Homo sapiens: one gene and its partner. The protein of the gene in region 1 purifies or fractionates together with the protein of each later gene. This does not show direct contact. Each region holds a gene or a part of one and is shown in the gene's direction. Other genes may lie near its edges.

The links. The genes of interacting proteins can lie anywhere in the genome.
Region 2: the proteins of DBX2 (region 1) and ANKHD1 purify together in Homo sapiens (affinity purification with mass spectrometry, with the first as the bait; one large-scale study listed by BioGRID). This does not show direct contact.

Annotation. Positions count from the first base shown.
Region 1 is NC_000012.12:45,017,136-45,020,099, reverse strand, and holds part of DBX2 (homeobox protein DBX2), read left to right. Parts: intron 1-2,964.
Region 2 is NC_000005.10:140,523,833-140,527,332, forward strand, and holds part of ANKHD1 (ankyrin repeat and KH domain-containing protein 1), read left to right. Parts: intron 1-233; coding exon 234-408; intron 409-2,163; coding exon 2,164-2,611; intron 2,612-3,095; coding exon 3,096-3,242; intron 3,243-3,500. Other genes in the region: ANKHD1-EIF4EBP3 protein, read left to right, coding at 234-408, 2,164-2,611, 3,096-3,242. UniProt on the Homo sapiens protein: May play a role as a scaffolding protein that may be associated with the abnormal phenotype of leukemia cells. Isoform 2 may possess an antiapoptotic effect and protect cells during normal cell survival through its regulation of caspases.

The DNA of each region.
Region 1 (2,964 bases):
CCATTGCATTGTACATTTTAAATGGGTGAATTGTATGGTATGTGAATTATAGGCTCAATAAAGCTATTAACAAATTTAAAAAAGTATTCAGTAATTTATGTAAATAGAATCATATATGCTTCTTTTACTTAACAGTATGTTTGTGAGAATCTTCATGTTGTGTGTAGTAAAAGCTCATGCGTATTCCTTGCTGTGTAGTACTACCATTATGTAGTATACCACAATTCATCCATTTACCGATGGTGGGCATGTGTATTGTTCTCAGTTTTGGGCTATTGTGAATAATGCTACTGATAATGTGTATTGTTTGGTGCTTTTTTCCTTTTTGAATATTATGGATTGCTTCCTTCCATGTCAGTACATACAGATCTACTTCATTCTTTTTTGTCTTTCATAACAGACCATCATTTCACCATCGTCAATTTTAAGTTACTTCCAATTTTCACTATCACAAATTTTTATGCACTTTAAAAATATTTTGTAAGAGAGTGTGAGTGGGATTTATGTGTAAAAGTGTGTGTACATTTAAAATGTAGAAGATTAAAAATTCCTTTCCAAATACAATATTGTATCAAATTAGATACTGACATATGAAAATTTCACTCTTACTAACAAATAGTCCCTTTTTGCAAAAGCTCCACCATTTATGATTTTAAAAATGTTGCCACTCTCATGGGCAATGCTATTTGTTATTTTTCGATTTGAATTTTCCTAACTACCAGAACGTGAGGGGCTTTTATTTGTTTTATTGGCCATTTGTAGTCTGTGAATTGGCCTTTTCATGGCTGCATCTTTTTTTCTATCATATTGTCTTTTTATTGATATGTAGCAATACTTTGGCTGTTAGTCAAGAATTTTGGAATATTATGGTTAGTATATTTTTCCTGTTTCAGATGTTGCAAAAGTCCTTTCTAAGTTTGTGGCTTTTTTTTATTGAGGTAAAATATGCATAGCAGAATTTATCATTTTAACCTTTTTTTAAGTGTTCAGTTCAGTGACATTAAGTACACTGACACTGTTGTGAAACCATCACGACCATTCATCTCCAGAAATTTTTTCATCTTGTAAAACTGAAACTCTATCCATTAAACAATAACTCACCATTTCCCCCTCCCCCACCTCCTGGCACCCACTATTCTACTTTATGTTTCTATTAATGACTATTCTAAGGCTCTCATATGAGTGGAGTAATATGGCATTTGTACTTTTATCCTGGCCTGTTTTACTTAGAATAATATCCTCAAGGTTCATTTCTGTTGTAGCATGTGCCAGAATTTCCTTCCTTTTCAAGGCTGAATAGTATTCCTTTGTATGTATATACCACATTTTATTTATCCATTTATCTGTTCCTAGATGCTTGGTTGCTTCCCATTTTTGGCTATTGTGAATAATGCTGCTGCGAATATGGGTGTACAAATATCATTTAGATTTCTTGCTTTTAGTTTTGTTGGGTAGTTTTTGGCTTTTTCATATGTTTGTACAGAAATTTCTCATTTTTATGTATTCAGCTCCTTTTTATCTTTTCCATGTATCCTCTGTTTTATGTCATGCTTATGAAAACATTCGTTTCCCCAAGACTATCATGATAATCTCTATTTTCTTTTAAAACTTTTGCAGTTTCGTTTTTATATTTAGCTATTTAATCTATCTGGAATTTGTTTTTGCATTTCTTGAGAGGTAGAACTTTTATGTTACTCCCCAAATATGCATTTGTCTCAACACCATTGATTGTGAGGAAACTCCTTTTATGTATTTTTTCTTTGAGATATCACTTGACAACAAATATTTATAGATATACAGAAAAGCTAAGAGAAGAGGAAATAACAAATGTGATGACAAAGGCAAGAATCACTAATGAAAACAAAAAACTGTCTCAGTGAAAACCCATTAGAAATACTTGGCATGCTTTCTAGGAGTAAATGCCCACTGCAAACAATAAATGAGTTAATGAATAGAACCAAGTACTCTGGTATGTACACATTAGTTCTGTTTTCGTATGAAAAGCCTTAATCATGGTGTTGTAACTGAGATGACAGTCTTTTGCACTGAATTGCCTGGGGTAGATTTTTTTTGTTGCCATTTTGAACATTGCCAATCAAGTAAAAAGAATGAAGAAATTGTTTTGCCAATCTGGAATGAGAGCCTTAGATAGAATTTTTTTCTTCACTGAGAGAAATACTTGGTTGATATGCTATAATAATTATTTCTTTGGGTAAAAATTTTCTAGTTTTTGTTTTAAAAATAGAAATCAACTAAATTGTTAGTGTAAGGATGTGATGCAATACACAGGAAAAAACATGATTGGCTTTTAAGATTCCAGGAAACCAGTTGTGAAGTTTTCAGCTCAGGCACAGTTGACTACACAGTGTATAAAGAGGGAGGTTTGTAATAAAGACTAACCTCTTTTGGGTTGGAGGAAGATATGGTTCAAATTAGGAACCACCATCATAAGCACTTTTGGCTTAATTACAATTAGTTGTTATTTATTGAGCTTAATTCTTACAGTTTGATAAATCCTGGGAGTAATCAAGACTTGGAAACTGTATAAAGCCTGCAATTTATCAAAGCATTACAAAATGGATTCTTAATTTAGTCTCAGAAAGCTCCTGATGAGGTCTGATTGTTTATAAGAGCCTGGACCCTGGAGTCAGACAATCATGGATTCTAGTCTCAGTGCTTCCATTTCACTAGCTTTGTGACCATAAGCTAATGTCTCCAAACTTCAGTTTTTTTAACATGTGAAATGAGGACTTCTTACAGCCATTGTGACGATCAAATTATAAAATCTATCCCGAGTGCATAGCCTGATGCCTGGCACAAAATAAACACTCAGATGCTAATACTAGCCCATATATTTCCTTTGAATAAATAATTCAGCACAGACTAGATGATGTTTTAAAATATATAAGAGTTAAATGAATTTTGAAAGCTATCAGACTTACAGGGTGTAACCAACTTATCACA
Region 2 (3,500 bases), on another chromosome or scaffold:
TTATAGGTGTGAGCCACCACGCCCAGCTGATTTTTTACTTTCTTGATGATTCCTTTGAAGTATAAAAGTTTTTAATTTTGATGGTGTCCAGTTTATTTTTTCTTGTTGGCATTTATAAATGTGTTTTGAGAGTAACATCCATGGAAATCCCTGTGTATCATAAAAATATCATTTCATTCTTTATTTTACATTACTGCCTTATTGGTAAAATTATATACCTGCTTTATTTCCAGTCAAGAGAAGAGAGCAGAAAGCAGGCTCTTGCTGCTAAAAGAGAAAAAAGAAAAGAAAAGAGAAAAAAGAAAAAAGAGGAACAGAAAAGGAAACAGGAAGAAGATGAAGAAAACAAACCTAAGGAGAATTCGGAACTACCAGAGGATGAAGATGAAGAGGAGAATGATGAAGATGGTGAGAAACAAACCATCTGAATTAACGATAAAATTCTCCTTTGTTTATCAACTTCATTTTGAGTGCTCTTTGCTCTAGTTAACTCTAGTTAAACATTTGATTACTTTATTAATCTGAAATGGACAATGACTTTTATAGTAAATATTTGTAAGTGTTTTGCATTGTAAATTAATGCAGAGAAACAAGAGGGAAAACAAGCGCATAATTTGAATAAATTCAGTTGTAATTTAAGTCACCTTGTAAAACACTGCATATATACTAAAAGCAATACAGTGAGAAGTTTGCCACCTTTTTTTGAGATTCTTCTCTAACTCTTCCTCTCCTGATTAGAAGTAAAATTTCTCAGTTTACTTTTAGCTGAGATTCAGGCTCAAGGATATAGAGGCCTGAAATGTCAGTAGAGATGGGTTTAGTACTCTCAAAGAGTTATTTATTGTACTGTCTGGCAGTGCTTGTAGTAGGCAAATAATTTTGTTCTACTTGGATTCTAATTCTAAAATACTATTTGAAAAATGTCCTAAATTCAAATTATATTGTGGTTTGGGTTCATGAGACTAGAATTAAGAATATTAAGAATATTGGGCCGGGTGCAATGGCTCACACCTGTAATCCCAGCACTTTGGGAGGCCGAGAGCGGATCACGAGGTCAGGAGTTTGAGACCAGCCTGACCAATATGGTGAAACCCCGTCTCTACTTAAAAAAAAAAAAAAATTACAAAATTAGCCTGGGATTACAGGCGTGGTGGCACATGCCTATAATCCCACCTACTCAGGAGGCTGAGGCAGGAGAATTGCTTGAACCTGGGAGGCGGAGGTGGTGAGCCGAGTTCACGCCATTGCACTCCAGCCTGGGTGACAGGAGCAAAACTCTGTCTCAAAAAAAAAATAAAAAGAAAAAAAAGAATATTAAGAATGTTGCTAGTATGTGTGTCCTATACCACCTTAGACAAGAAAATATATTTTATATTTGTTCTAACAACAAATAATAGTAAATATTTATTAGGCTAACAAGAGCAAAGATTTTTTTTGTGTGTTTTTTTGAGATGAGGTCTCCCTCTGCCACCCAGGCTGGAGTGCAGTGGTGCAATCTCGGCTCACTGCAACCTCTGCCCCCCAGGTTCAGGTGATCCGCCCACCCCAGCCTCCCCAGTAGCAGGGACCACAGGTATGCACCACCATCCCCAGCTAATTTTTGTATTTTTTGTAGAGACAAGATTTCGCCATGTTGCCCAGGAGATCTTGAACTCTTGAGCTCAAGTAATCAATCCACCTGCCTTGGCCTCCCACAGTGCTGAAATTACAGGCATGAGCCACTGCACCTGGCCACAGTAAAAGATTTCTTTATTTCAGCTGGGCGCAGTGGCTCACACCTGTAATCCCGCACTTTGGGAGGCCGAGGCGGGTGGATCTTGAGGTCAGGAGTTTGAGATCAGCCTGGCCAACATGGTGAAACCCTGTCTCTACTAAAAGTACAAAAATTAGCCGGGCATGGTGGCACATGCCTGTAGTCCCAGCTACCCAGGAGGCAGAGGTTGCAGTGAGCCAATATCGCACCACTGCATTCCAGCCTAGGCGACAGAGCAAGACTCCATCTAAAAAAAAAAAAAAAAGATTTCTTTATTTCTTAGTGAATACTGGTGAAAGGAAAATATGATGTAAAACACTGAATTATTATGAATTATCAAATATATTCTGTCAGAATTTGTTTTGAGATCTGTGACTCAGTATGATTTTTATTCTTTTTAACAATTTCAGTGGAGCAAGAAGTTCCCATAGAACCTCCTAGTGCAACCACCACCACTACGATTGGAATCTCTGCAACATCTGCAACATTCACAAATGTGTTTGGGAAAAAAAGGGCCAATGTGGTGACAACTCCCAGCACCAATCGGAAAAATAAGAAGAACAAAACAAAAGAAACCCCTCCTACAGCACATTTAATTTTACCAGAACAACATATGTCTTTAGCCCAACAAAAGGCAGATAAAAATAAAATAAATGGAGAACCTAGAGGTGGTGGTGCAGGTGGGAATAGTGATTCAGATAACTTGGACAGCACAGACTGCAACAGTGAGAGTAGCAGTGGTGGTAAAAGCCAAGAGTTAAATTTTGTGATGGATGTGAATTCCTCTAAATACCCCTCACTGCTCCTTCATTCCCAAGAAGAAAAGACAAGTACTGCTACTTCCAAAACTCAGACACGGTAAATTTTTCTGATTTGTTAACTCTACCTGCACCTTTCCTTCTTCATGCCTGGTACAAGAATTTGAAGTATATTAATCCAAGTACAAGTTGTGTTAAACAATTGAAGTCTACCACATTATCTATCTTCAATATTCAAAACTGAAATTCACCCATGTCCTCTTTATCATTTGCTAGTTAGGAAATGAGATTATTAGAAATTTTTATAGGATTCATAGTCTGAAGTTGAAAATATTTGCATGCTTTGATTTTATCTATGTCATTTTTATTGATTATAGTCTAATTTTTGGCATCTGAATCCATTTTAATACTAAAATAAATGATGGGTTCTTTGCTCTATTTCTGTTTTTCTGACTCATTGATTATTTGATGTGCCAAAGTTTAATACGAATATTTCAGCGTAACTCTGGCTATAAAGGAATAGTCTCTTGAGTTTCTATCTTAAAACTTATCTTTTATTGTACTTGCTATTTGTCTCTTCTTAGACTTGAAGGTGAAGTGACTCCTAATTCCTTGTCAACCAGCTACAAGACAGTGTCATTGCCATTAAGCTCTCCAAACATAAAGCTGAATCTCACTAGCCCTAAAAGGGGTCAGAAAAGAGAAGAAGGGTGGAAAGAAGTTGTACGAAGGTAAATAGAATTAGTTCCATCTTTTTAGCTTTCATATATTTTCCCTTTCTCATGTGAGATGGCTACCTAGTTAATTAATGAATAATTTGAATGTGGTTATTATTTTAAACTGCATTGCCACACTAAATCCAGAATATGCTAAAGCAAAATTAGAAGCAGTATGTAAATTTTGCATGCATATTTTATATGACACAAGAAATTTTGGCTTTTTTGGATAACCTCAGTTGCTTTTTATGTAGTTCAAATGTAAAGGCTTTC